7 linked regions of the Homo sapiens genome follow. The protein of the gene in region 1 purifies or fractionates together with the protein of each later gene. This does not show direct contact. Each region holds a gene or a part of one and is shown in the gene's direction. Other genes may lie near its edges.

Region 1 (3,919 bases):
CTGCTCTGGACTCACTCAAGTGTGTCTCACACCCCTTCCTCTTCCAGCAGCAGCTACCTGGCAACTGAACCCATCATCACCACAGCCACTCCTGCAGCTGCCACGGTTTCTGCCACCTCTAAGATGTGCCCTGGTAACTGGCTTTGGGCTTCTATGACTTTTATGGCCCGCTTCTCCCGGAGTAGCTCAAGGTCTCCTGTTCGAACTCGAGGGACCCTGGAGGAGATGCCAACCGTTCAACATCCTTTCCTCAATGTCTTCGAGTTGGAGCGGCTCCTCTACACAGGCAAGACAGCCTGTAACCATGCCGACGAGGTCTGGCCAGGCCTCTATCTCGGAGACCAGTATGTATCGGGCAGACTGGGCCCACGGTAGAGCGTGTGTGTGTTTGTGTGTGTAAGAAAGGAGAAGGGTGGCAGACAGGTATGCAGTGGTGTCATTGGTTCCTGGTTGAAGATTGAGGGGATAGGGCACATGGGCCAAGAGTAGAGGCTGCAGGTTTGGGAGAGTTTGGCCAGGATTATTGAAATGCCCAACTCTGGCCAGTCACAGTGTCTCTTGCCTGTGATCCCAGCAGTTTGAAAGGCTGAGGCAGGAGTATCTAGAGTACAGGAGTTCTAGACCAGCCTGAGCAACAAAACCAGACCCCATCTCTACTTATTATTTTAAAATAAAATAAATAAAATAAAAATACCCAAGTCTGGACAGAAAGACTCTGTTCCAGTAATAATATCATTCATGTATCACATATTTATTATTACATGCCAGTGCTACATACCAGGCACAATAGATGACTTCTCTGACCTTCCATCTATTGTGCAATGTCTCTGGGAAAAGGCAGCCACTGGAAGCCAGGAGCAGTAGGTAGGAAGCTGCAGTGGTTTCTCTTGAGACCAAGCAAAGCGGCAGTGCCTACAGAGATTCTGCAATTTGAAGGCTATGGAGAGAAAAACATCAAAGGAAGAGCCATCCCCACTTCTCTCCCTCAAAGTTATACAAGGATTTCTTTTGCTTCTTTGGTTTGTTTTGGTTTTGGTTTCTTTCTTTTATTTTTTTTTGGAGACAGTATCACTCTGTCACCCAGGCTGGAGTGCAGTGGCGCGATCTTGGTTCTCTGCAACCTCCACCTCCCGGGTTCAAGCGATTCTCCTGCCTCAGCCTCCAGAGTAGCTGGGACTACAGGCACACACCGCCTTGCCCGGCTAATTATTTTTTTGTATTTTAGTAGAGACGGGGTTTCACCGTGTTGCCCAGGCTGGTCTTGAGCTCCTGAGCTCAGGCAGTCCACCTGTCTCGGCCTCTCAAAGTGCTAGGATTATAGGTGTGAGCCACCGTGCCCAGCATTGTTGTTGTTTTTGAGACAGGGTCTCACTGTTGCCCAGGCTGGAGTGCAGTAGCCCAATCTCAGCTCACAGCAAACTCCGCCTCCCGGGTTCAAGCAATTCTCCTGCCTCTGCCTCCCAAGTAGCTGGGCTTACAGACGCCCATCACCACACACAGCTGATTTTTGTATTTTTAGTAGAGACGGCGTCTAGCCATGTTGGCCAGGCTGATTTTGAACTCCTGGCCTCAAGTGATCCACCTGCTTCAGCCTCCCAAAGTGCTGGGATTACAAGCATGAGCCACCGTGCCTGGCCTACAAGGATTTTTTTCACACACATTATCTCTCTTAATCTTCACAACAGCCCTGTGAGATAGGTATCACTCTCCCTGGGTTACAGATGAGGAGACTGAAGCTCAGAGAAGTTGTGCCTGGCCAAGGTCACACGGGTTGTAAGTAGCAGAGCCCGGGCTTGGAGGCTCAAGTTCAGTGCTCTTTCTGCTTAAGGAGTTTGCACTGGACAGGGCAACTCAGTTTGCCCTGAGATATGACTGTGGTGCCCAGGGGTGTCTGCCACCAAGCTGAGGGGTCTGGGCCGGATGAACACCTGAAGGTGACGTCATAAAACAGGGTAAATGTGGCCGGGCATGGTGGCTCACATCTGTAATCCCAGCACTTTGGGATACTTAGGCGGATGGATCACGAGGTCAGGAGTTCAAGACCAGCCTGGCCAAGATAGTGAAACCCCGTCTCTACTAAAAATACAAATATTAGCCTGGCATGGTGGTGGGCACCTGTAATCCCAGCTACTCGGGAGGCTGAGGCAGAGAATTGCTTGAACCCGGGAGGCAGAGGTGGCAGTGAGCCGAGATCGCGCCACTGCACTCTAGCACTCCAGCCTAGGTGACAGAGCAAGACACCATCTCAAAAAAAAAAACAAACAACAACAACAACAACAAAAAAAAACACAGTCACAGTAAATGTGAGCCATGGAATATCTGGCAAAAACACAAGACGGTTCTGGGTGTCAACAAGAGTAGAGACATAGGGGAGTTAGGTGTGGAAGTGGATGTCAGAACCATACTATCTCAGAGTGAGCAGGACCGATGAAATGAGCAGAACAATCTGCCTGACATTCATTTCCCCTCTGCAGCATCCATGGCTACATGGCCATCTCCTCTTTCTGCCTGAATACCCCAGGGACAGGAAAACCACTCTCTCTCGAGGTTCTCCACCCTTTCCTCAGCTAGACTCCACCATTAGAATGTACTTCCTTGTATGAAATTGAAATCAGCTGGCCAGGCACAGTGGCTCACGCCTATAATCCCAGCACTTTGGGAGGCCTAGATAGGTGGATCACAAGGTCAGGAGTTCGAGACCAGCTTGGCCAACACGATGAAATCCCATCTCTACTAAAAATACAAAAATTAGCCGGGCATGGTGGCAGGCACCTGTAATCCCAGCTACTCAGGAGGCTGAGGCAGGAGATTCGCTTGAACCTGGGAGGCAGAGGTTGCAGTGAGCTGAGATTGCACCATTGCACTTCAGCCTGGGAGACATAGCAAGACTCTGTCCCACCTCCCAAAAAAAAAAAAAATGAAATCTGCTTCCCTGGGGCTTTAATTCCTTGATCCTCATTGTACCCTTGAGAACCCTACAGATCCAAGACAATCTCAATTCCAGAAAACACACTTTCAGTTTTGTTTTGTTTTGTTTTGTTTTTTTTGAGATGGAGTCTTGCTCTGTCACCCAGGCTGGAGTGCAGTGGTGCGATCTCGGCTCACTGCAAGCTCCGCCTCCCAGGTTCAGGCCATTCTCCTGCCTCAGCCTCCTGAGTAGCTGGGACTACAGGCGCCTACCACCACACCCAGCTAATTTTTTCTATTTTTAGTAGAGATGGGGTTTCACCATGTTAGCTATGATGGTCTTGATCTCCTGACCTCGTGATCCGCCCGCCTCGGCCTCCCAAAGTGCTGGGATTACAGGCGTGAGCCACCGCGCCCGGCCGCACACTTTCAGTTTTATTATGGCTATTTTTACCCCATCCCCTTAGTCTTCTCTTCTCCAGGCAAAACATCCCCTATACCTTCAACCATGGCTCACAGGACAAGACTCCAAGTCATTGCCCATCTTGGTTCCTCCCTTCTGGATCACTAGTAAGTAAAGTAGTGTCCTTAGGCCAATAGTAGGATCCAGGAGGCCAGGCATGGTAGCTCACGTCTGTCATCCCAGCACTTTGGAAGGCCGAGGCGGGAGGATAACTTGAGGTCAGGAGTTCAAGACCAGCCTGGCCAACATGATAAAACCCCATCTCTACTAAAGATACAAAAATTATCCGGGTATAGTGGCATGTGCCTGTAATCCCAGCTACCCGGGAGGCTGAGGCAGGAGAATCGTTTGAACCCAGGAGATGGAGGTGGCAGTGAGCACTCTGGCCTAGGAAACAGAGCGAGACTCCATCTCAAAAAAAAATCAACAATAGGATTCAGGAAGTTAACAGGGTGTAGACAAGGGAGTCTTCCCCAACAACCTGGCTTTCCCACCCTTCCTCTAACCTCTACTCAATGCAGGGACATGGCTAACAACCGCCGGGAGCTT
Region 2 (4,322 bases), on another chromosome or scaffold:
AGGTCATTATTTTAGTCTATTAGTTCATTAGTTTGGGGTATTACATTGTAAAGTGATGTCATCTGTAACCTAGTGCTATTTAAAGATGCACTGAGCAGAGTAGCTATAATAAAAAATATCATCGCTTAAAAATCTCAGTAACAATCCAGAATTTGCCTGTTTATAAGACTTATTTGGGCACTCTGACTTTTAAAAGTTAGGAGATGTGACTTTTCTTGATTTTTGAATTTATTTTTACCATCAACTGCCAATAAATTTTCCTCCATCTATAGGTCTGAGGATATGGCTTAATGAGTAAAACTCACTGGGTAGTTGTTACCCATCACCATAATTTTTGTTGTAAGTAGTTTACTTCTGTGTATTCTCTCAGGTATCCCAAGTAGATACCATCTGTGAGTGCTTACTGGAGCATGAGGAGCAAGTCTTGAGGGATGCACCTATGGATTCCATTGAATGGGCTGAAGTGGTGATCAATGTGAACAATATTCTCAAGGTACAAAAATATAGTAAAGGCTTCAGCAAATCAAAGCCCAGGGCATGGATAGACAAGGAACTGGTTTCCATGTTCCTACTCTGTATTGCCGATAATGTATAAGGTTGTAGACATTTGTTAATCCCAAAAAAGTTAGAAAAATGTCATTTTATTATTAATCAGCTAATGAGTATTTTGAATGTTAGCCTGGTGCCTATTAATAAATTTCTATAATCTTGAGTTTCTATTTGGTAGAATAATAAACCTTTCATTTGGGAAGATGTGTTTGTATCTTTGCAATTTTTTAGTTGGTTTTTTTTCTGAGAGAAGGTCTCACTGTCACCCAAGCTGGAGTGCAGTGGCACCATCATAGCTCACTGTAACCTTGAACTCTGGGCTCACGACTTCCTCCTGCCTCAACCTCCAAGAGTGTTGGGATTACAGAACTGAGACACCATGCCTGATTGCAAACGTATTGTTAATGTAACTGTCTAAATATTTCTCATTTCTATTTTTTTAATTACTCAAAACCTTGCTACTTTTACTATTGACTAAAACGTTCCATTTAATTTTAGCTAGTGGACTTGTAGTAATGATTTTCCTACTTTGCCAAATAATTTTCCTACTATTATTTGCCAAAACTGAAGTTAAATTATGGAGTAAAACAAATTTCAAAAGCAGAAAGAACCAAAAAGTAATCATGCAGATCTGTGCTGACTTTTTTCTCTCATTTTCTTTTCTTTTCTTTTTTTTTTTTTTTTTGTGAGACATGGTCTCACTCCATTGCCCAGGCTGGGTTTATAGTGGCTTGATTATAGCTCACTGCAGCCTCCACCTCCTGGGCTCAAGCAGTCCTCCTGCCTCAGTCTCCCAAGTAGCTGGGACGGTAGGTGCACGCCACGATGCCCAGGTAATTTTAAAAATTTTTTGTACAGATGGGGTCTCACTATGTTGTCAGGCTAGGAGCAATCCTCCTACCTCAGCCTCCCAAAGCACTGGGATTACAGGTGTGAGCCAACATTCCTGGCCCCTGAGTATTTTTTCTTACTAATTTACTTTGCTGTCTTAAATTATCTTCAGAAATACTGTGATCCATCACCTTTTGCATGTGATAACACATTAACTTTTTTTCCAGGATATGCTGCAGGCTGCTAGTCATTATCGCCAAAATAGAAACTCTTTGTATAGAAGAGAAGAATCACTAGAAAAAGAACCTGAATATGTTCCATGGACGGGTAATATACTGATTTATTAACAGTTGTTCAAAATATATTTCTAATGACCCATCATTTTTAGAAGTTGTGTTATTCCCCTAGCGTAGGTTTGTAAGTGAAATGAAAAAGTGCCGTCTCCAAAATGAGCAGCTCTTGTCAAAATCACTTTATTCGTCCCTTGCTCTTATTTATCGATCTCTCTATAATTTATGTATTCAACTGGTACTTATGCATTTACTAGGTTTTAGTTCAAATAGTTATTCATAGAAGCAGTCCTGGCCCCGGAGGTATGGACTATATTTTATGTTGATTTAATACAAGAAAGTAAGTGGAGTAGCATTAAAGGAATTTAGAAGGAAGAAGAGTCATGTTTACCTGGCTTTGCTGAGGAAATCTCCTTGGAGAAGATGGGATTCAAGCAGGGCATTGACAGGTATCACCTGAATCCCTGTTCAATGTAATTTTCCAGCAGTGATGAAGAGGCATAATTTTTATGCTATTAGTCTTTCCTTTAGCCATCACTAGATCCCTTACTTTAACCATATTATTTTGTGTAATTTCACAGCAACAAGTGGTCCTGGTGGCATCCGAACGGTAATAATACGCCAGCATGAGATTGTCCTGAAGGTGGCTTATCCACAGGCAGACAGCAACCTCCGAAACATCGTGACCGAGCAGCTGGTAGCCCTGATCGATTGCTTCCTGGATGGTTATGTTTCTCAGCTTAAGTCTGTGGATAAATCCAGTAATCGGGAAAGATATGACAATCTGGAGATGGAATACCTACAGAAAAGATCAGATCTCTTATCTCCTCTTCGTAAGTTCATGATACTTGGCAAGAGTTTTAAATTTGCTGAATGGATGAAAGGGTTGAATAGTTAATTCAGTATATTCAGTGTGGTAGTGTTAATCCAACTGTAATAAAGAACTTAAAGCAAATATGCACAGCTTTCTGTGCTCATTTATTCAACTTTTTTTCCAGTACTATCTAGGTATAAGTACCATAGATGATACTGAAGACAATTAATAAATACATAAACAAACAACATGTGGAGACTACCCTTAAAGAGCTTAGCATCACAGACCTTTACGTGAATAACTGGATTGCAAAGTAGAGCCTGGTGAGGGCTGCTTGAGGGGTACAGATAAGATATTATGGCTGTTTGGCAAAGGACACATTATACTCCAGGCTAGGACTGGGAAGAGTTTGCTTTACTCTTACATGAAGGAAGAGAATAGCGTTTTGGGGAGGCAGTGATGAAACAAGGGTCTGAATTTGCATCTTTTTTTTTTGTTGAGACAGAGCGTCACTCTCTCGCCCAGGCTGTAGTGCAGTGGTATAATCTCAGCTCACTGCAACCTCCATCTCCCGGGTTCAAACAATTCTCCTGCCTCAGCCTCCCAGGTAGCTGGGATTACAGGCGTGTGCCACCACAACTGGCTAATTTTGTATTTTTGGTAGGGATGGGGTTTCACCATATTGGCCTGGCGGGACTCGAACTCCTGACCTCAGGTGATCCACCCGCCTCAGCCTCCCAAAGTGCTGGGATTACAGGTGTGAGCCACCGCACCTGGCCTGAATTTGCATCTTTAAGAAATTGATGTGAATTGTGAAACTAAGTGCCAGTAAGTGGGAAGGTTTCCATTCCATTAATGATTGTTGGTTTATAATAGGAATAAAGATAAAATTTCAAGTAACATTTTTTATTACAGATTTTAAGTTTTGCTAACAGGATTTTTTCCCATCTTTTCTCATTCCCACAGTTTCACTAGGCCAGTACCTGTGGGCTGCTTCTCTAGCAGAGAAATACTGTGACTTTGATATATTGGTACAAATGTGTGAGCAGACTGACAACCAGAGCCGACTCCAGCGCTACATGACCCAGTTTGCTGATCAGGTGATGAGTGTTGGGTGTGTGGCCACTGAGTCCTTTAGTTGCCTTTTCTTGAAATGGCTTTGCCATTTCAAATCTGTAATCAGGGCTTTTGGAATATGATACGATCTTTTTGTAGTTAACTTTGATGAGAAGATACTAATTTGTATGTCGCGTTTCTTTGTAAATTTTGTCCAGTAGCGAGATCACAGTTCACGACAGCCTCAACCTCCTGGGTCCAATCACTTCTCCCACCTCACCCCCTCCCACACCTCCTGCTTTCCAGTAGATGGGACCACAGGAGCTCGCCACCATGCCTGGCTAATTTTGTTCATTTTTCAGTAGAGACAAAGTCTCGCTATGTTGTCCAGGCTGGTCTCAAACTCCTGGGCTCAAGCGATCCTCCTGCTTCAGCCTCCCAAAGTGCTGGGATAACAGGCATGAGCCATCGCCTGACCACACAATTCTTTATATATAAATATTACTGAAAGATTCTTTGACCTTTGGAAAATATAACTTTCATTTCTGTTTATATATTTTCTAGTTATTATAAAAGTACTTAGGTACATGAATATTGGTAAAGTTCTTAAAAATTGTATAGAAGATACTCGGGAGCATAGAAGACTACTTTAAGAGAGCTTAGCTTTACAAATACACCTAACATTCTCATTTTCCTTGAGGGATATTATGCTTCCTGTTTAAAAAACAAAGTTCCCAGCCAGCCTCAGTGGCTCATGCTGTAATCCCAGCACTTTGAGAGGC
Region 3 (4,322 bases), on another chromosome or scaffold:
GTAATTAGAATTTCTTCCTGAAATTATTTGCTTTCTTCCTTGGTTTCCTTGCTTTTCTTTCCTTTCTTTCTTTTCTTTCTTTGACAGTGTCTTGCTCTGTCACCCAGGCTGGAGTGCAGTGGCACCATCTCGGCTCACTGCAGCCTCGACCTCCCAGGTTCAAGCAATCCTCCTGCCTCAGTCCCCCAAGTAGCTGGGACTACAGGCATGTACCACTGTGCCCGGCTAATTTTTATATTTTTAGTAGAGATGCGGTTTTGCCATGTTGCCCACGCTGGTCTCAGACTCTGAGCTCAAGCGATCTGCTGACCTTGGCCTCCCCAAGTGTTAGGATTACAGGCATAGGAGCCACTGTGCCAGCCTGCTTATTTAAATACAGAGAAAACCCCTCCTAAGATTGTTGGGAATATATAGGGTGCCAGGTGCTTTCACTTGTGTTCTTAGGCAGCTCTTATGACATACTGCCATACAATTATAATTATCCTTGTGTTACACAGATGAGGAAATTGTTGCTCACATTAAATAATTTCCCCCCAAGTTATTCAATATGTGAATACAGGGGCAGGAATTCTAACCTAGGTCTTTCTGACTTATCTCTATATCATGCTGCCATTTCAAATTAACAAAATGAACAATAATCCAAATCTCTAGGTTGTATGTGCATTATGGTGACCAGCCTTCATGGTTTGTCCAGGACTGAAGGGGGTTCCAAGACTTGAGACTTTCTATTTTGAAACTAAGACATTCCTAGGAAAAGCAAGAGAAGCTTATCACTCTAGTGTGTGTGTTAGTGAATGGCGTGAGGATGTTCTGTATAAAGAAAGTGCCCAGCCAGGCGAGGTGGCTCATGCCTGTCCTCCCAGCACTTTGGGAGGCCGAGGCAGGTGGATTACCTGAGGTCAGGAGTTCAGGACCAGCCTAGCCAACATGGTGAAACCCTGTCTCTACTAAAAAAATACAAAAAATTAGCTGGGTGTGGTGGCGGGTGCCTCTAATCCCAGCTACTTGGGAGGCTGAGATAGGAGAATTGCTTGAACCCAGGAGGCGGAGTTTGCATGAGCCAAAATTGCGCCATTGCACCCCAGCCTGAGCAACAAGAGCGAAACTCCGTCTCAGAAAAAAAAAAAAAAGAAAAGAAAGTGCCCAAAGAAATTGGAAAGGTTACATAGAATTCTCTAAAGATCTTTAATAGGTAAGGTTAAATGTTCAAGTACATAAATGTTGTAAGTGAAACCTGTTTGGAGATAGAAGACTCTGTGAGGGTAATTTTAGCCTAAGATTTTTTTTTCTTTTTTTTCTTTTTTTTTTGAGACAGAGTTTCCCTCTTGTTGCCTAGGCTGGAGTGCAGTGGTGCGATCTTGGCTCACTGCAGCCTCCACTTTTCGGGTTCAAGTGATTCTCCTGCTTCAGCCTCCCGAGTAGCTGGGATTACAGGCACCCACCACCATGAGCGGCTAATTTTTGTATTTTTAGTAGAGATGGTGTTTCACCATGTTGGCCAGGCTGGTCTCGAACTCTTTTTTTTTTTTTTGAGGTGGACTCTCACTCTGTCGCCCAGGCTGGAGTGCAGTGGCGTGATCTCGGCTCACTGCAAGCTCCACCTTCCGGGTTCACGCCATTCTCCTGCCTCAGCCTCCCGAGTAGCTGGGACTACAGGTGCCCGCCACCATGCCCGACTACTTTTTTGTATTTTTAGTAGAGACGGGGTTTCACCGTGTTAGCCAGGATGGTCTCAATCTCCTGGCCTCGTGATCCGTCCGCCTTGGCCTCCCAAAGTGCTGGGATTACAGGTGTGAGCAACCGTGCCCGGCCCCAAACTCTTGACCTCAATGATCCACCCACCTTGGCCTCCTAAAGTGCTGGGATTACAGGCGTGAGCCACCATGCCCAGCTAGCCTAAGATTTTTATAATTTAATAGAAGCTTTCCTTTATTATTTGTTACCACATTGTTCTTGAGGAGATCTGGAACTAATTTAACAATTTGGCCTTGCTTACTGAGGCTGAGCTTTCTGAGCTTCAAGAGCATTCCTTACCTGTTACGACTTTCAATAGCAAGTAACACGTTTGTAGCTGCCATTTACCCCCGAACTATCCTTTTATTATTTTAAGGCTTTTTAAAATTTTAATTTTTCTTAGCCACACACAAATCTTACTAAGGTTTTAATTTCAAAAGTCATGCCTGCCTGTTTAAGACTTTCAAGCAATACAGGATAGAAAGGAAAAAGTCCTAGTATTTTTCTTCCTTTTTAAAATCTCAACCCTTTCCCCAGGTCACTAGTTTGAAGTACATCTTTCCAGACTTTCTTTTCTGTACACACACACACATACACACTCACTCTCTCTCTTTCTCACTCTCTCTCTTAAACACATGCTCTCTCTCACTACTCCCTCTCTCTCTCTACCCCCCTCCATCCCCCTCTATTTTCTAAACAAAACAATCTCCACTGCTTTGTCACTTAACCTTTTCAATTCAACAATATATTATGGACTTCTTTCCATATCAGCAATATATATCTGCTTCATTCTTTTTAATAATAGCTGCATGGTATTCCAATAAAATAGGTCAGAGCTTCCCAACCAGTGGGCCTTACATGGTTATAGGTGTGCCAAGATACTGAATCCCTAAGGGAGCTGGGCAGGACTAAGAACTCCAGAGATGGAAAATGGTAAGATACTGAGGCAAGTATATATGAAATATATAAAACCGTTTCATTCCTTCTACATTTTTCTCAGGAATTAAAAAGTCTTGCAACTAAAAAGCCTGATAAGATTGGTATTCCTGTTATTAAAGAAGGCATACTAGATGCTATTATGGTTTGGTTTGTGCTCCAGCTTGATGATGAACATAGTTTATCCACAAGTCCTAGTGAGGAAACATGTTGGGAACAGGCTGTCTACCCCGTACAGGACCTTGCAGGTAGGTCTTGTCCATTTTTTTTTTTAACCTCTTGCTTTAATCTTCTAAGTATTCAAGTCAGTGGCAAAAAAAAAATTACTTTGGATATGAAGGTTTCAGTCAAAGGAGGTTGGTTAAATCTTTCAGAACTTCATTTTTTTTCAAAAGAAATTTGAAATAGGTAATATTTGTGGTTAAGAGAGACAAACACAACTCTGTTGCATAGCATTTGAAAAACCTATCATTATTTCTTCAGCTCTGATTTTTCTTTTTTCTTTTTTTTTTTTTAACGACAGAGTCTCGCTCTTTTGCCCAGGCCGATTGCAGTGGCTTGATCTCGGCTCACTGCAAGCTCCGCCTCCCGGGTTCACGCCATTCTCCTGCCTCAGCCTTCCGAGTAGCTGAGACTACAGGCGCCCGCTGCTGCGCCTGGCTACTTTTTTGTATTTTTAGTATAGACCGAGTTTCACCGTGTTAGCCAGGATGGTCTCGATCTTCTGACCTCGTGATCCACCCACCTCGGCCTCCCAAAGTGCTGGGATTACGGGCGTGAGCCACTGCGCCCGGCCGATTTTTCTAGTTATCAGTAGATGAAAGAAATCCTGCTCCATTATTTCATGGAAAGTACTGGAAAAGTATTGCTTTTAGTGCAGGAGTTCTTACTCCTTAGAGAAGCCGATAACGTCTGTGGAGCCCTGCATCATAAAAATGTACACACTCATATAAGCACAAAATTTTTCAGTTTTAGAGAGTTCATGAATCTGAACTTCCCTAGGGAAGTTCTGTATAAAGATTTTTTTTTTGTATGGAAATTTTTTTTACAGTGATTCGATGGGTTTCAGTAAGTTTAAAGTAGTTGAATTATATAGAAAAACTACCCTTTTTAGGCTGGGTATGGTGGCTGACACCTGTAACCCTAGTACTTTGGGAGGCCCAGGTGGGAGGATTGCTTGAGGCCAGGAGTTTAAACCAGCCTGGGCAACATAGCAAGACCTCATTTCTTTTTTTCTTTCTTTCTTTTTTTTTTTTTTTTTTTTTTTTGAGACAGAGTCTCGCTCTGTTGCCCAGGCTGGAGTGCAGTGGCGCAATCTCAGCTCACTGCAACCTCCGCCTCTTGGGTTCAAGTGATTCTCCTGCCTCAGTCTCTTGAGTATATGGGACTACAGGTGCATGCCACCACGCCCAGCTAATTTTTTGTATTTTTAGTAGAGACATGGTTTCACTGTGTTAGCCAGGATGGTCTCGATCTCCTGACCTCTTGATCCATCCACTTCAGCCTCCCAAAGTGCTGGCATTACAGGTGTGAGCCACCGTGCCCGGCTGCAAGACCTCATTTCTACAAAATGAAAAAATTTAGCTGGGGATGGTGGCAAGTGCTTGTAGTCCCAGCTACTTGGGGCACTGAGGAAGAAGGATCGCTTGAGT
Region 4 (4,322 bases), on another chromosome or scaffold:
GAGTTTGTCATACTGAGCCAGCATGACCTAAGCTATTTCAGTATGTATTATTCATGCAAATTAAGCATAAACTTTTAAAATCATCTCATTGGCATGATTGGGTCTTGCCATTTTTGAGAATCTGATTATTCTCTTTACAATTGTGCAGTGGATTCCATAGGGACAGAAATAATTAGATTAATGTTGGTAGTAAATCCTCATCAATCTTTACATTTTAATTATCCATTTGCACAGGGCTCTTTGATGTAGAAACAATGACCTAGAAATAAGATACCTTGTGTTTGTTATTTCCAAATAAATAGTTTTAAGAGTATGTTCTTCTTTTTCTGATTCAATATTATTGATATTCCAACAGATGGTGAAGGAGGAATAGAAGATGAAAACAGGTCTGTTTCTGGGTTCCTTCACTTTGACACTGCTACAAAAGGTAATGCCCTTTGAATTTGTAATAAATTTATTTTATAGACATATATTAAAAAAAAAAAAACTTCAAGGGATTATTATGCCTGTGCCTCCAAACTCTGAACTGGTATAGAAAAGTTATATAAAGGATTAATTGCCACCTGAAAATTTTTTTTATAATAGGATTATACAAAAGGAAAGAAAATATTTTTGTTAATGGATGTATCAGAAATAAAATCAAATTTAGATTCCAATACAGTTTTCAGTTTCTTGACTATTTTATGCTCTTTCTGAAAATAGCACTGTCTTTGAAAATCAACTGAATATGATGGCTTGCCTTTCTTTTCAATGTCCCAAGTAAAATCAAATTACTTTTTATTATTTCTAGTACGTCGAAAAATTCTAAATATTCTTGACTCGATTGACTTCAGTCAGGAGATCCCTGAGCCTTTGCAGTTGGATTTTTTTGATCGGGCCCAGATTGAACAAGTTATTGCTAACTGTGAACACAAGAATTTACGGGGACAGACAGTCTGCAATGTCAAGGTGAGGATTGCTTTAAAGTACATATCTGCAGTGTCAAGTGGCTCAGACTTTAAGTCATCAGAAACAAATAGAACCATATAGGTTTTCTTTCTGATAGAGACATTGGTTTAGTAGTTTATAGGAAGGACTGTGATTTTTGTAAAATATCCCTGAAATAAAACTTAATATATCACCTAACTTCTTGAAAAGGGATACTTAATATTTTGGTCTGGAAATTGGACAGTGCTCCTGTTAGATTATATATAAAGGTATCTGACACCTTTCCCTTTAGGGCAGTTTATGGTAATTGCTAGGTGTTACTGTTCTACCAGTGTCTGAAATGTCTTATTTTTCTTTCTTTTCCTAATTATCCAGCTTCTTCATAGGGTTCTTGTAGCTGAAGTAAATGCCCTTCAGGGTATGGCAGCCATAGGACAGAGACCTCTACTAATGGAGGTAAGCTCTATTGAGTATGTGTTCGTTTCAAACTTCTAACTACTTAGGTTGCTGGTGAAAAGACTAAAATAGTATATTGACATGTAGTTTGCTAATTAGTAAGCTGCCTAAAAATTAAACATTTAGGGAGTCTTTCACTTTTGATTTTATAACTTTTATAAACTGAACTATCTGGTATGCCAAAATAAATAACACCTTTTCTGCTAGGCTAGTTAAGGATTTGCAACCTGACCATATTTCGTATTAGACTTCACTTGGTCCCCATCAGTGAGAGAGGAGGGTCATTTGTCATCACAAGTGGAAAGTTACAGATAAGAGGTCAGGTGGGAAGAACCACATGAATGGAGATACAGCCGGCCAGGCCAAAGCAAGAGGCAAAGAAATAAAAGAGATGTCAGAGAAACATGCCATTGAACTTGGAGTTTAGATAATTCTAGTGCTCTAGAGTAAGCAAGTATAAGTAGACAGGTACAAGGAGAAAGAAGATGGTGTCAAAAAATACATATTTATCTATGCCACTTCTGTCCCCTACCTTTCATGCACATACACACACATACACACCTTATATGTTAATATTTTTTATAGCCCTGGCTACTGAAATAATATGAAAAGATACCTGCTTCCTGGCATGCATGTAGTAGGTTTCCAAATAAATATTTTCTGAGTAACTGACAGATAACTGATCTTATTTGCCTGTTTAACCTTGTGATTCAATTCCTGTGGCTTTAGGAAATCAGCACTGTACTTCAGTATGTGGTAGGAAGAAATAAATTGCTGCAGTGTCTTCATGCAAAACGTCATGCTCTGGAGTCGTGGAGGCAACTAGTAGAAATTATACTGACAGCTTGTCCCCAGGACCTCATTCAGGCAGAGGATCGACAACTGATTATTCGTGATATTTTACAAGATGTGCATGATAAGGTGACGTACTTCCTAAAATACTTTATACTGCTGAACGAATGTATCATTTAAACAAATATATTTTGGCATCCTAATTGTTTTCCATTTTCGATTGGGAGTAAAATAGAATTGTGCAATACCAACGTTAAGACTTTCCTTGAGAAAGGGATTAATTCTGTACAGTAGTGGCTCTCAACCAGAGTGTGTGTCTGAGTTATCTCGGGAGCTTTGTAAAAATTCACATGGACAGAGCCCACCCCAGACCTACTGAATGTAGTGGTGAGACCATTTATGTGAATTTCAAAAAGAAAACCTCCCTAGGGAATTCTGATAGGAATCCCTTCTGGTTAAGAACACCCATTACCTAGCATCATGTTTAAATTTCTCTGTATATATTAGATTCCTTTCTTTCTTTCTTTCTTTCTTGACTAATTTCTGTATTCCATTCTTATATTGTTACCATAGTTGACAAGCTAAATGTATATAAAACTTGTTAATGGGCTGTGTGCAGTGATTCATGCCTGCAATCCCAGAACTTTGAGAGGCCAAGGTGGGAGGATCACTGGAGCCCAGGAGTTTGAGACCAACCTGGGCAACATAGTGAGATTCCATCTCTACGAGCATGATGGTGTGCACCTGTAGTCACAGTTGCGGGAGGCTGAGGTGGGAAGACCTCCTGAGCCCAGGAGGTCAAGGCTGAAGTGAGCTGAGATTATGCTACTGCACTCCAGCCTCGGTGACAGAGCGAGACCCTGTCTTCAAAAAAAAAAAGCTATGAAATTTGTTAATGATTATAGCTGAAAGCAGGATTCTCACTCTAATTTGCCCTTGTCCTTTAAGATACTGGATGATGAAGCTGCGCAAGAGTTAATGCCTGTGGTCGCCGGGGCAGTGTTCACACTGACTGCTCACCTAAGCCAGGCCGTCCTCACTGAACAGAAGGAAACATCAGTCTTGGGACCAGCAGAGGCCCATTACGCTTTTATGCTTGATAGTTGCTTCACCTCACCTCCTCCTGAAGAGAACCCATTAGTGGGTTTTGCTTCTATTGGAGATTCTTCACTTTACATCATATTGAAGAAACTGTTAGACTTCATTTTGAAGACAGGTTTTTTTCATTTAAATTGTCTATAAATTCTATCTTTTGTATTTGTTTTAACTTTAATTGAGAAAAGATTTTCATTTGACATCTTCCTAATCTCCCTAGGTGGTGGATTCCAACGAGTGAGGACTCACTTGTATGGCTCTCTGCTTTATTACTTACAGATTGCCCAGAGACCTGATGAACCAGACACCTTAGAAGCAGGTAGAATGAGATCAATTCCTAATCTTTTCTGGATTGGGAGATGGTTACTTTAAATTGAAAAAAAAAATCACTTCTCCATCTTTTGACTAATCACAACTGTAAAAAATGAGTGTTAGTGTCATTTTTAAAGCATTTACTCAAAAGTTGAGGAAGAATGTTTAGTTTTTAAGAATTATGAAGTAGTACATGAGTACTACTTTTAAGATAACCTTCAAATAATACTTTAGCTTTATATACTTCTGTAACTCCCTCACTTGCCTCAAGTCCGACTGAACAGTGTGCTCTACATAGAATGGTCCAATGTCTTTCTTTCCTTTGTGCTACATCAGAGTACTTATCTAGTTGATTCTTTTAAAATATCTCGGCCTGGCATGGTGGCTCACGCCTGTAATCCTAGCACTTTGGGAGGCCGAGGCCTGTGGATCACCTGAGGTCAGGAGTTCGAGACCAGCTTGGCCAATATGGTGAAACCCCATCTCTACTAAAAATCAGAAAATTAGCAGCCATGGTGGCAGGCATCTGTAATCCCAGCTACTCAGGAGGCTGAAGCAGGAGAATCGCTTGAACCCAGGAGGCAGAGGTTTCCCAGATTGCGCCACTGCCCTCCAGCCTGGGCAACAAGAGTGAAACTCTGTCTCAAAAAGAAACACAAAAGTCTTTGTTATTCCATGATATGGATGAAACACTTATCTGCCATTTTCCTTATTCACAGGCATTTCAATTGTTTCTAAAT
Region 5 (4,322 bases), on another chromosome or scaffold:
ACATCCAATCTAATGCTGATCTTTCTTTTGCAGTTTTTCTACTATCAATCTTTCCTTAACCATTCTTAAAGCTCTCTCAGATCCATCCATCCATGACTTTCCCTATTCACTATTGCTGATCCAGCCACTATTTCTTACTGGGATTAGTCCTAGAAGCCTCCTCATTCCATTTCTTAACCTTCTAATTGAACTTGCTGCTATTTGCAAACAAAGTTTTATTGGAATAGAGCTATGTTGATTTGTTTATGTATGGTCTGTGGCTGCTTTTGCACTGTAATGGCAGAGTAATTGTGACAGAGACCATATGGCCTGCAAAGCCTAAAATATTTACTGTCTGGCCTGTTACAGAAAAAGCTTGCAATTCTGCTCTAAGCTATTCTCCACACTGTAGCTAAACAGCTTTCTAAAACAGTTAGGTCATGTCACGCCCCCACTTGTAATCTTTCGTGTCTTATAAGGAGACCCTCATCTCTCTCACCGTGCTTTACCCTTGGCTGCGTGCTTCCAGAGTGTGTTCATGCTTCCATTGTATACGTACCATTTTGTATTTTAATGCTTAATCGTCTTCCTCACTGGACTCGGCCCCAGTATTTTGTTCCCCTTTGTATCTCTGGGATACTAGGTATGCAAGAAACATTTGACATCTGAGTAATTGCTGTATTTCTTTAAATGCATGTGTTATAGGTACCTGTCTATTGCACTAAGACTGGTGTAAAACATTTGCACCACAAGGCTCAAGAGTTTGACATTGGAGTTTATTTTGAAGCAAATGGGCATGGCACTGTAAGTTCTCTTAATTATAGTTGGCCTTAGCTGGCACTTTTCTTTATGATGAGACTTCTATATCTGGGAGGTAATAATAGGTAATATTGTACTTTGTTGAAATAATTGGATGTGACAAAAAGATCCTTTGGTTATCTTATATATTGATGTATTATGAAACTGTGATTCTCTTTTACATGGTAATGATTCTTCTTTGAATGTGAAGAGATATACTAAGGTGTTTTGAATAGTTTTTTAAAATTTACAGTTCTTAATTTTTTTATAAGTATGTTGTCTATGCATTTTCCGGCTGGCCATAGGAGAGGAAAAGAAAAATTCAGTCGCTATGGTGAATTGCAAAGTGTTGGAAAGTTGATAATTAATAAGAAATGAAAATGAATTTAAGGTAACTAGTGATAGGCATAAAATGTTTCAATTTACATTTTACATAAAATTACATTTTAAAGTGTATAATTTAGTTTTTTGTAGATTCATAATGTTCAGAATATTTTTAAAATGTTTTTATACTCACCTCATTTAATGAATACACTTGAGGTGGCTATCAGAACATTTGAATCAAAGCCAAATAATTTTCCTCATTAATTTAAAATTGGCTTTTGGAGGGCATAAATATAAAAAGGGGAAAAATAAGTTCCTACAAAATGCAATTAAGATATAACTTTAGTGATCGAATGGAGAAGTTGGTAAATTATTTTCTAAAGGGTAGAGAGTAAATATTTTTGGATTTTCAGGCCATAAGGTCTCTTACAGTTGTTTAACTCTGCTGATCTAGCTTAAATGAATCTGTGTGGTTGTGTTCCAGTAAAACTTTACAAAAACAGGTGACTAGCCTGTGCCTTATTTTATCAAGAAAAATGTATTTCATCAAGTAGTTGAGCATAGTATGCTAATCTTGCTCAGTATTAGGCCTCTAGAAGGCAGTAAAAAAGATGAGTATTTCCAAATGAGATAAGACTCTTGAGGAGCATGATGAATTATATATTGTAATGACTATCCATGACATTATTTGCCATATTTTGATGAATACTATGAACTCTTAATTTTGCCTAGCTCATCCCCTTAAGTTTTAGAATAAAACTATACTAGCTGCAATGAATTATATCCTTCAAAGTAAAAAGGATACAGACAGGCTCTAAGTAACCTGGTTGCACAGAAATGATTTAGCTGGTTAAAGGGAAAACATGAACTTACTGTGTGTGCTTGCCTCTTGTCAAGGTGGTGTTTTCTTTGTAATCAGATGTTTAAATTTTTATAACCAGTTATATAATCCGCAAATAAAATTTTTCCCCTAGTACTATCCTCTGGGTTTTAATGTGATCTTACATTAATTTCATACATTTTAAGGCTGCCACTATTTTTCCCCTCAGTTTCTCCAGATTGACTAGGAGGGAAAAGTGGGTTAGCTAGAATAATAGTACTTATGACTAGGTTTTGGATAGTGTTTTGAGACTGATTTTATATTCTTTTGCTGCAGGCACTGTTTAGTACAGCTGTTGAAATGAAGATAAAACAATCAGCAGAACAACTGGAAGATAAGAAAAGAAAAGCTGCTAAGATGCTTGAAAACATTATTGACTTGTTTAACCAGGTCAGAACTGATGGGGCAGTGGACTCTTGGTTACCTTTACATTATTCAGAAGATGGACAGAACAGAGTGTGGGTGCATACAAAATTAAAGTGGAGACGTCCTGGCCTGGTGGCTTCCTTCTAATAGTGGTATATTCAGTTGAGATTTATAATGAAATGGAATGACAGAACATTTTTTAATATGCTTCCCTTCCCCTACCTCTTATGATGGAAATTTTCAAGTATATTGGGTAGCTTCTACCTAGGATCACAGATTCAGCTACTCAGTGTATACATATATATTATTAATTTTTTTTTAACCAAACCTCGATGAAATTAAGTAAAAATAACTGGTTGTCAGGCCAGGCACGGTGGCTCATGCCTGTAATCCCAGCCCTTTGGGAGGCCAAGGAGGGCGGATCACGAGGTCAGGAGATCGAGACCCTCCTGGCTAACAGGGTGAAACCTCGTCTCTACTAAAAATACAAAAAATTAGCCGGGCATGGTGGCGGGCACCTGTAGTCCCAGCTACTCGGGAGGCTGAGGCAGGAGCATGGTGTGAACCCGGGAGGCAGAGCTTGCAGTGAGCCAAGATCACGCCACTGCACTCCAGCCTGGGTGACAGAGCGAGACTCTGTCTCAAAAACAAACACAAATAACTGGTTGTCTCATTGACAAAGGACATACATGTGGGTTAGTTGGGGTTGGAGTGTCGTTTGGCTATGGAAAAGCAGTACTCAGGGTAGAGGAAAGCGATTCAATTATTTGAGTGTCTTGCACACACTGGACACTTTATATACCTTGCTGTGTAATCCTTACAGTAACACAGGGAGAGGTGTTACTGTAATTTCCATTTTATAAGTGAAGAAACAGAGATTTATCTTCAGTTATATCTTATACCAAAGCTCATATTTCTCCATTTTACCTTGATGCTTTCTATCAATCATTGTGGGGTAATATCTCAAAAGGGATCTATTTATAAAAAGAAAAATGAGTGATGGAATGTTAGGCTGAGCCTTAGAGTTATCCAGTCTAATTTCATTTTATAAATAAGGAGTACTAAAGGCAAGTTTCTCAAGAGCTAGTTTCAGTATTCTTTGTTATACCTTTCATTGTCTTCCACAGAGATCTTCACCTCATTGTTCGTATTTTATCCATCCACAAAAACACTTCATTTAATCATGCTGCATGTGAGAAAGCACATGATATAGGCTGAGTATCCCTTATCCAAAATGCATGGGACTAGAAGTGTTTTGGGTTCCAGATTCACTGGATTTTGGGATATTTGCATATATATAATGTGACATCTTGGGTATGGCACTCAAGTCGGAAACACTAAATTCTTTTGTTTCATGTATGTTACATAAGATTAAAGGTGGTTTTATAGAATACTGTAAATTTAGTGCATGAAACAAAGTTTGTGTCTACTGAACCATCAGAAAGCAAAGGTGTCACTCTGTCAGCCACCCGTTGGACAATCTGTGGTTGTCTGGCATCACCATCATTCCTAAAACTCTGAATTTATATGCTATCAATCAATAAGCAATCAATCATTTTTTTACACTTATTCACACACAAGTATTTTAATAGTAAAAAATATGATACATATCTGGCATGCATGGAAACGATGTATCATAGCTGAAGGAGGCTGAGAGGGTCTTTTTCCCTTGGGGATGCTGAATGAACTGCGGGCCTGCCTTTAGTGGGTTTTTTTTGTTGTTGTTGTTGTTTTGTTTTGAGATGGAGTCTCGCTCTGTTGCCCACGCTGGAGTGCAGTGGCGCAATCTTGGCTCACTGCAACCTCTGCCTCCCGGGCTCAAGCAATTCTCCTGCCTCAGCCTCCCGAGTAGATGGGATTACAGGCGCCCACTACCACACCTAGCTAATTTTTGTATTTTTAGTATAGATGGCGTTTTACCATGTTGGCCAGGCTGGTTTCAAATTCCTGACAGTGAGGTCAGGAGTGCATTTGT
Region 6 (4,322 bases), on another chromosome or scaffold:
ATGCCACTGTTGATTTGATTCTAGCTAAAAATAATTACATAAAAGGCAACATATTTATTTTCTTGGAAAAACTTTTGAGTTATAGGATTACATAGGTGGTAAATGTCATTCTTTGTCTTGTTCTGTATAGGAATTTCTCATTGCCGTAGGACTGAAAGGAGCCACTCTCCAGCATAGAATGCTTCCTTCTGGGCTTAGCTGGCATGAGCAGGTAAGAGAGCTGTTATATATGTATTAATTTATTTAAAAATTTGTGTTGACATCTAATACACATACTGAAAAGTTTGTAAGTCATAAATGTTCAGCTCAGTGAATTATCATTAAGTGAATACTACGGTGTCACCACCTTTTAGGTTAAGAAATAGAACAGTATTGGCCGGGCACGGTGGCTCATGCCTGTAATCCCAGCACTTTGGGAAGCCAAGGCAGGTGGATCACCTGAGGTCAGGAGTTCGAGCCCAGCTTGGTCAATCCCGTCTCTACTAAAAATACAAAAATTAGCTGGGCGTGGTGGAATGCACCTGTAATCCCAGCTACTGGAGAGGCTGAGGCAGGAGAATCGCTTGAACCCGGGAGGCGGAGGTTGCAGTGAGCTGAGATCGTGCCACTGCACTCCAGTCTGGCGACAAGAGCGAAGCTCTGTCTCAAAAAACAAAACAAAACAAAACAAAACAAAACAAAACAAAACAAAACAGTATTATCACCTCAGAATGTAATTGGTTTTTTACCTTAAAGTGTGGTCCTCAAAACCTCTCAATGACAGAGTTATCTTATATGTCATTAAAGGAAGGGAAGGGACTCTGTATCCCAGGACTTGTAGAATGTCTGGCGTAGAGGAGCAGTGAATGGTGTGTTGAATTGCTTTTATAATCAGAAGTTCTTTAAGTGCAATATTTCCATATAATTCCCTAGGCCAATAATATGATGTTGCTTTAAAGCATTTTATCAGGATTTCTCTCATTAATTTCCAGTTCAACAACTTTTTATGGTAATAAAATACAATTGGTTATTTTTCAGAGGAGACTTTGAGTAAGAAGTTAGCTTTTCCTTATGTGAGAATGAAAACTAGTGCACTATGATTGCTTCTCATGTTTCTTATAAAGGAGAACTTCTTAATTGTGCTGGGAAAATAATACATTATTTAAAAACTTGAGTGTTTTCAAAATTCTTTTCTCATGAAAGCATTTAGGAAACATGAGAATATCTGTCTGACTTTCTATCTGGTAGGAGTAGAGAAGTGGTTAGGGTGAATAACCAGCTGGAAGGGAGACATTTAGCAGAACCTCCTTATTTGTTTGGATTAGAAATATGAAAGAATAGATGTTGGTGAGAGGGACTGGTTTTTAGACTGAGCTAGGTATACATTAAGGAAAAAGAGCTTCCTTCAACAATGACTTATATGAAAAACCAATCGCCCCTGCACACAATGAGTTATATAAGAAGCCAGATTGATAGTTTTAAGCAGTCTTTAGCAAAATTTATTTTTTCTGAGAATTGTTCCAAGCCAAAAAATATGAAATTATATTATGCATACATTGTTATTAATTTCATAAGGTGTGATTTTCTAAGATTTCTGTAGCATTGGAGTTGTTGGATAGGCTTCTGCATTTCAAATTCTAATTTTGCAAATACTTTTAAAAAATTTATTTTTATTATATATAAGGTGAATAACATGTCTTGATATGCATAGTAAAATGCCTATTGTAGTCAAACGAACACATCCATCAGTATCCATTACCTTCTTTTCTGATGCAAGTACTTTTTGAAACTAATTCCTTCAAAATGATGATTTTTTTCCTTTTACCGTTATGATTTTCCAATTAAATGATTTTTTCTGTGAGATATTCTGGTTTACATTGGTATTAAGGATATTATATGAAACCTTTTTTTTCTTCTAAAGCAGGGCGTTTTAATTTTTTGTGATTATAGATTTTATACTTCTTGAATATTGCTGATGAACCTGTTTTGGGATATAATCCTCCAACTTCATTTACAACTTTTCATGTTCATCTTTGGAGCTGTGCACTTGATTATAGGTAAGTTCACAAATGGAACAAAATAAAGTTTTATTTAAAATGCTACTAAATTTTGAAAAAAATACATAATTCAGTAGAGTTAAGGTTCAAATTGTTGTTGTTGTTGTTGTTTTTAATAGAGTTTCTGGAGCCGTATCAAACTGATGTTCTTTTGTTTCTCTTTGGCATTAGACCCCTTTATTTGCCAATCCGATCTCTTCTTACCGTGGAAACATTCAGTGTTTCCAGTAGCGTTGCATTGGATAAATCTTCCTCTACTCTCAGGTACCTGTGTAAACTTCATTGTATACTAAACAAAGCTGTTCGAAACATACCAATTGATATTTACCTAAACCATTTTATTAAAGTCTCAATTTTTTGTTAAACGTTCTTTTACTAATAGTTATAACCTTTTACCCAAATTACCCAATTTTTCTCAGGTGACATGTTTCATCTACCCATTTATTATTGCATTTCATTTTTAGGGAAGAAATTAATTCTGGAGATTCTTTAAAAAGTTTGCATTTTAAAACATATGGTAAACTTCCCATGCTACCTGATACACTTTATACTTTTTATTTAATTTTTTTATTTTTTAGAGACAGGGTCTTGCTCTGTGTGGCCCAGGCTGGAATGCAGTGGCATGATCACAGCTTATTACAGCTTTCAACTCCTGAGCCCAAGTGATCTTTTGCCCTCACCCTACTGAGTAGCTAGGACTATAGACGTGTGCCTCTATCCCTGGCTGATTAAAAAAAAAGTTTTGTTTTTGTAGAGAAGGGGTCTTGCTGTGTTGCCCAGGCTAGTTGAGAACTCCTGGCCTCAGGTGGTCCTCCTGCCTTGTCCTCCCAAACGGCTGGGATTACAGGTGTGAGCCACTACATCTGGCCCACTCTATCTTTATACTATAGTTTAAACCTTGTGAATTTGGGCATCTCTTTAAAAACTGCCAAAAATTTAGAATTAATTTGAGTAGATGATTTAATCTAATTCTTTACACCATTTAAATATTCCTAGCATTCATAAACAGTTTTTAAAAAATGTTAGATGACAGTTATAAGTTAGAAACTGCTTATGATTTCAACAATGTTCATACCAGAAAGAATGATGCAATTAAGCATATAGTGATTATGGGGTATGATACTCAAAGCTTAGTTTTTCAGATGTTGGTTTTATCTTTCTTGCCTCAGAATAATCTTGGATGAAGCTGCTTTACATCTATCTGACAAATGCAATACTGTCACTATAAATCTGAGTAGAGGTAAGAGTTAAAAAACAAATGGAGTAGATAAATTCTGCTTTATTTTTGTGCGTAAATAATTTTAAAGCATTTTAACTCTGGGATAATGCTAGTGAACTAAGAATCTTATTAAAGATCCTTAAAGATTAAAGGGTCTTTAAGTATATAGTGATCATGTGGTATATATTCACAGCTTCATTTTTCAGATACTGGTTTTTCAGTTTGAAATTGTAATGTTCTTATAATGCTAGTTAAGTACATCAAATTACTATATATACTACAAATTTTTATTTAAGATAATTTTTGTTTCTAACAAAAAATAAAGTGAATTTTAGGACTTCTATGGGATGAAACTATTTTCATTGCATTATAATTATTTGTAGTGCTCTCTGCAATGAATTTTAAAGGAATGCTAGTTGTATTGGGTGTTGGTTGGATACACATTTTTGAAAGCTGTACTGAAGAGATTTTCTTAATTTTAAAAATTTTAGATTATGTTCGTGTGATGGATATGGGGCTTTTGGAGTTAACCATAACTGCAGTGAAGTCTGATTCTGATGGAGAGCAAGTGAGTTATTAAAATAAATGAAAATTTTAAGTTCTATTTTTTAAGAGATTAAAAAAATTGAGTTTAACATTTTTCCGTGTACCTAATTTTGGTCAGAAATAGAGTAAGTATATTAAAAATGGATTTATTTAAATACTTTTTTTATGTAGCGAGACAGATTATCATGAATCTTATTTAATGTAAATCTATGCAAAAAAAGAAACTTTTGTCTCATTTGGAAAACATTTTCATCCCTTTTTCTGTGTCTTGTCCAGACTGAGCCCCGCTTTGAGTTACACTGTTCCAGCGATGTTGTCCATATCAGAACGTGCTCAGACTCTTGTGCTGCGTTAATGAATCTCATTCAGTACATTGCAAGCTATGGTGACTTGCAGACACCTAACAAGGCAGATATGAAGCCTGGAGCCTTTCAAAGAAGGTCTAAGGTACAGTCAGCAATGTGATTCCTCCAGTCCCTGCCATGTCGTGACATGTTTACATTATTGAGGTCTTCATGACA
Region 7 (4,322 bases), on another chromosome or scaffold:
GTTTCTCCATGTTGGTCAAGCTGGTCTTGAACTGCTGACCTCAGGTGATCTGCCTGCCTCGGCTTCCCAAAGTGCTGGGATTACAGGCATGAGCCACTGTACCCGGCTTGGCTTTCATTTAATTGTGATTTCATTGGAAGAAGATGTTAGACTTCTGTTCTGTACCTCAAGGCAGATTCTTGGTCTTAGCCTAATCCATGCAACTCATTTTTTGAAAATATATATATTTTTTCAGATTAAAAAAAAATATACATTCCATGGAGAAAATGTGAAAAACTCAAAAAAATGATCTGTAATACCACTATGGCTTACATGAACATTCCCTATGACCTTCTAGCCTTTTATATTCATAAATGAACATTTACAAACAATATCAAACTGCACGTATGGCTTTGTACCCTGTCCTTTTTTGCATATATATAGTGAGCTGTATTTTCCCATGCCAACACACCATTGTTATGGCTGCACAGCCATGGTATGCTGTACCTTAATTTATTTAAGCAACTCTAGTATTCAACATTCAGGCTCTTTGTAAATTTTTGCTGTTAAGAACAATTTGCCCTGAACATCCTAGTGCATGCATGCCTGAACACTTGTCTAGTTATAGTTATCCTCTCAGGTAATACGTTCCCAGAAATGGAGATCAAAGACAAGGTACACCTTTAACTCTTAGGCTGTCTAACTTTTTGTGTTTCTGTGGTGGTGGAGGGGTATAGGAACAGAACTTGGTGCCACAGAGGGTCAGACATGATTCATGTCATGTGTGAGTGTTGCACTAGCATGTGGGGAGTAAGACCAGCCTCTGCCCTCAAGGTTAGGTACTAGGCACTTCCCAGGCAGTGCGAGGATGTGATGGAGAAGGGATGAAGTGGAGAGGGGGTGGCGCGGGGTTGGCTCAGCCTAGAACCAGTGCCACACATCCACCTTGAGACTCCAGGGTCTCAGGCTGCATCCAACTGCTCGGCCTGAATCCTGCCGGCCTGAAAGAATCCTGCTGGAGCCACTTGATTACACTCTGCCCTGCCCTACATTCCTGACCCCATATCCCCTCCCTAGCTTGGCCCACTGGGGCGGTGGCTTGGGTTGGGGGTGGGGACACATGCTGAGTTTTAGGGTGGGGCCACACCAGCTTTCTGTTTTCAGCTTAGGGGGAGGTTTCTGGGTTTGGATGACCTCTGCACACATGCCTGGAGTCCCTGCATGTCCACCCCCAGCCCTGCTCTCTAGACTTCACCCCATGTGGGGCTGGGACACCCCTCTCTGGGAGTGAGGGCTGTGTGAGTGGAAGGGAAGAAACCTGGGGTGGGGGAAGGAGGAAAGCAGAACGCAGATCTCTACTAAGTTCATCACAGGCCTCTGAATGTGAGCTCTGAGCCCCCTGGGTATGTCAGGCTGGTCATGCGAAAGGTGCCAGTGACACCCAGCATTTGTACCTGCAGTCACAATTCCCTGCAGTCAGGACACCTGGCTTGGAGAGCTTGGGGTCACGCAGCAGGGGACTGAGAAGAGAAGTTTGTAGGGCCTTTCAGGCTAGGGACTGTGAGAGAAATCGTGGGTGCAGAAATGAGGCTGGGCGTTCACAACACAGTGAGTCCAGGGTGTGGGCTGGGGATGGAACTGGGTGGAGCCACATGCCACATTACAGAGGGATTTCCACTTGGGGAGACAGTCAGGAGAGACTCATTGCAGAGGCTTCAGTGAGGGAGTAAAATGGCCAGAGTGCTATGTTTTTTTGGTCAGCAGGTGGGCAGAGCCGGAAGGGGCTGTCAACACAAATCTCAGTCCAGGAGCAGCTGCAGGTGCTTGAGGCAGACACCTGTGCATATTTGGTTAGCAAATTGCTCTCCCCATCGCTCAGCCAGCCAGCCCGCCAGCCAGCCAGCCATTAGCCCTTCCTGCACAGTGCAGGAGAGCCCTCTTCTCCAGTATGAGTCTAGAAATAGATGATGGGGGTGATATAGGTAATGGGAGGGAAAATTAAGTCTGTGTCTCAAAGATGATGATGATGATGGCAGTGGGTAGACTTTACAGATCACTTACATTGGGTGGCCCTGGCCTTTACCTATGCTCTCACAGCCTGAGGCATAAATACAATTCAGGAAAAGTAGTGGGAAGCATTTAGAACACCAATTTGCTTACCACCTAGACTTAATCATTGTTTACAGTGGTCACATTTGATATTTGTATTTTTTGCTGAAGTATTTTATGATAAATTACATACATTGCATCTTTTTCACCTCTAAATATTTTATTATACATCCCTATGTAACTACAGTGTTGTGATCACACCAATTAATAGTTTCCTAATAGCATTCAGGGCCCAATCCATAGTCAGATGTGCCCATTGTCCTCAGTGGTGTGATCAGAGTTCACTGTAACCTCGAACTCCTGAGCTCAAGCAATCCTCCTGTCTTGGCCTCCCAAAGTGCTGGGATTACAGCCACTGGGCCCAGGTTGTCTGTGTTTGACCGACCATTGGTTTCTTTTTTTTTTTTTTTGAGATGGAGTTTCCCTCTTGTAGCCCAGGCTAGAGTGCAATGGTGCAATCTCGGCTCACTGCAGCCTCTGCCTCCCGGGTTCGAGTGATTCTCCTGCCTCAGCCTCCAGAGTAGCTGGGATTACCAGTGCCAGCCACCACGCCCAGCTAATTTTTGTATTTTTAGTAGAGACGGGTTTCACCATGTTGGGCAGGCTGGTCTTGAACTCCTAACCTCAGGTGATCTGCCCGCCTCAGCCTCCCAAAGTGTTGGGATTACAGGCGTGAGCCACCACGCCGGGCCTGACCATTGGTTTCTTTAAATCAGGATCCTAGGCCAGGCGCAGTGGCTCATGCCTGTAATCCCAGCTCTTTGGGAGGCTGAGGCAGGCGGATCACGAGGTCAAGAGATCAAGACCATCCTGGCCAACGTGGTGAAACTCCGTCTCTACTAAAAATACAAGAATTAGCTGGGCATCGTGGCACATGCCTGTGGTCCCAGCTACTCGGGAGGCTGAGGCAGGAGAATCACTTGAACCCGGGAGGTGGGGGTTGCAGTGAGCTGAGATCGTGCCACTGCACTCCAGCCTGGCAACAGAGTGAGACTCCGTCAAAAAAAAAGAAAAACCATCGAGATCCTGTCAAGGTACTCGTGTTACATTTTCTTATGCCTCTTCAGTTTCCTTTAATCTAAAACAGCGCCCCGCCCTCATCTCCTTTTCCACCATGAACACTGAGTTTCTGGCAAGGCGGGGTTGTGGTGTAGGCTGCTTCACTTTCTGGATTGATTTGTCAGGGCTGCCTTTGTTGCTTTGTTTCCCAGAGAGCTCTGCGGAGGTTTGGAGCCAGGGCGAGTTGGCCTGAGGGTCTGCCCTGCTGAGGGTCCTACAGCCTCAGTTACTCTGTCAAGTGAGAAAGACTGAGAGAGTCCAGTTCTGGGTTATGGAGAGTGGGAGACAAGCCTGGGGCTGGCAGGCCAAATATATGAGGCAAGGGCTGGCTGGCGGCCCATGGTTGCACCTTTTCTCCCTCTCTTCCCAGCTTTCCCTTTGGTCTCCTGCTCCCTGTCTTTCTTCTCCTTGGCCTTACAGATATGTCCTCCCATGCACCCAGCACCGCTGTAGAGACCCCAGGACTTGTCAGACAGCCCGCCTGACCCTGACAGCCAGAAACCCAGGCCTGTGGCAGAGGCAGGGTGGCACACTGGCCCCGACCTTTATTTCTACTGGGCCAAGTTTAGTTGTTCTTGCTATCTCCATTCTTCCTGGAGAGACTATTTGGGTTCTCTGCGTGTGCGGCTTATTGTCCTTTCTAGACTTTAAGCTTTCTGAAGGCTTTAGCTGTACTTGTTTTAAAATTCTATATATTCCATATACTGTCTGGCCCCCCGTTGGTTGGCACAGGGTGGATTCTTGGTAAAGATATGTAGAGGTAAAGGAAATGGTTGCTTTTGCAGGGATGCAGGAGTTAATTTCTTTTCTCTGATGAGCCAGGAGCCCCAACCAGTGAATCTGGGTTTCTCTCTTAACATTCCGCCTAGTAGGTGTGACTTTGGCTATCTGGAGAAAGGGCCCCCCAGGCTTCCCACCCACCACCAGCCCATCCCAGTGTTCTGACAGTGCCTGCTGTTGGAGTGGCCTCCTTGGGGCTGGCCTGCATCTGTGGAGTGGTGGCCAGTTGTAGGGTCTAGCCCTACGGGGCTTAGTGGGTGTTCTCCCCATGTGCGGAGATGAGAGATTGTAATAAATAAAAGCACAAGACAAAGAGATAAAGAAAAAACACCTGGGCCGGGGTGACCACTACCATCAAGACGCGGAGACCAGTAGTGGCCCTGAACGGCTGGGGT

What was found.
Region 2: the proteins of DUSP26 (region 1) and NUP133 purify together in Homo sapiens (affinity purification with mass spectrometry, with the first as the bait; one large-scale study listed by BioGRID). This does not show direct contact.
Region 3: the proteins of DUSP26 (region 1) and PRMT9 purify together in Homo sapiens (affinity purification with mass spectrometry, with the first as the bait; one large-scale study listed by BioGRID). This does not show direct contact.
Region 4: the proteins of DUSP26 (region 1) and NUP205 purify together in Homo sapiens (affinity purification with mass spectrometry, with the first as the bait; one large-scale study listed by BioGRID). This does not show direct contact.
Region 5: the proteins of DUSP26 (region 1) and PGM3 purify together in Homo sapiens (affinity purification with mass spectrometry, with the first as the bait; one large-scale study listed by BioGRID). This does not show direct contact.
Region 6: the proteins of DUSP26 (region 1) and ATG2B purify together in Homo sapiens (affinity purification with mass spectrometry, with the first as the bait; one large-scale study listed by BioGRID). This does not show direct contact.
Region 7: the proteins of DUSP26 (region 1) and ITPR3 purify together in Homo sapiens (affinity purification with mass spectrometry, with the first as the bait; one large-scale study listed by BioGRID). This does not show direct contact.

Annotation. Positions count from the first base shown.
Region 1 is NC_000008.11:33,593,720-33,597,638, reverse strand, and holds part of DUSP26 (dual specificity protein phosphatase 26), read left to right. Parts: exon of another isoform or gene 1-47; 5' UTR 48-123; coding exon 124-344; intron 345-3,891; coding exon 3,892-3,919. UniProt on the Homo sapiens protein: Inactivates MAPK1 and MAPK3 which leads to dephosphorylation of heat shock factor protein 4 and a reduction in its DNA-binding activity. Inhibits MAP kinase p38 by dephosphorylating it and inhibits p38-mediated apoptosis in anaplastic thyroid cancer cells.
Region 2 is NC_000001.11:229,462,805-229,467,126, reverse strand, and holds part of NUP133 (nuclear pore complex protein Nup133), read left to right. Parts: intron 1-370; coding exon 371-493; intron 494-1,607; coding exon 1,608-1,707; intron 1,708-2,251; coding exon 2,252-2,503; intron 2,504-3,450; coding exon 3,451-3,584; intron 3,585-4,322. UniProt on the Homo sapiens protein: Involved in poly(A)+ RNA transport. Involved in nephrogenesis.
Region 3 is NC_000004.12:147,656,388-147,660,709, reverse strand, and holds part of PRMT9 (protein arginine N-methyltransferase 9), read left to right. Parts: intron 1-107; exon of another isoform or gene 108-205; intron 206-2,734; coding exon 2,735-2,918; intron 2,919-4,322. UniProt on the Homo sapiens protein: Arginine methyltransferase that can both catalyze the formation of omega-N monomethylarginine (MMA) and symmetrical dimethylarginine (sDMA). Specifically mediates the symmetrical dimethylation of SF3B2.
Region 4 is NC_000007.14:135,616,300-135,620,621, forward strand, and holds part of NUP205 (nuclear pore complex protein Nup205), read left to right. Parts: intron 1-355; coding exon 356-427; intron 428-790; coding exon 791-948; intron 949-1,302; coding exon 1,303-1,383; intron 1,384-2,112; coding exon 2,113-2,304; intron 2,305-3,123; coding exon 3,124-3,391; intron 3,392-3,490; coding exon 3,491-3,589; intron 3,590-4,322. UniProt on the Homo sapiens protein: Plays a role in the nuclear pore complex (NPC) assembly and/or maintenance. May anchor NUP62 and other nucleoporins, but not NUP153 and TPR, to the NPC.
Region 5 is NC_000006.12:83,172,423-83,176,744, reverse strand, and holds part of PGM3 (phosphoacetylglucosamine mutase), read left to right. Parts: intron 1-684; coding exon 685-783; intron 784-2,257; coding exon 2,258-2,371; intron 2,372-4,322. UniProt on the Homo sapiens protein: Catalyzes the conversion of GlcNAc-6-P into GlcNAc-1-P during the synthesis of uridine diphosphate/UDP-GlcNAc, a sugar nucleotide critical to multiple glycosylation pathways including protein N- and O-glycosylation.
Region 6 is NC_000014.9:96,311,043-96,315,364, reverse strand, and holds part of ATG2B (autophagy-related protein 2 homolog B), read left to right. Parts: intron 1-130; coding exon 131-211; intron 212-1,929; coding exon 1,930-2,036; intron 2,037-2,207; coding exon 2,208-2,300; intron 2,301-3,205; coding exon 3,206-3,276; intron 3,277-3,746; coding exon 3,747-3,823; intron 3,824-4,077; coding exon 4,078-4,248; intron 4,249-4,322. UniProt on the Homo sapiens protein: Lipid transfer protein required for both autophagosome formation and regulation of lipid droplet morphology and dispersion.
Region 7 is NC_000006.12:33,627,000-33,631,321, forward strand, and holds part of ITPR3 (inositol 1,4,5-trisphosphate-gated calcium channel ITPR3), read left to right. Parts: intron 1-3,038; exon of another isoform or gene 3,039-3,385; intron 3,386-4,244; exon of another isoform or gene 4,245-4,322.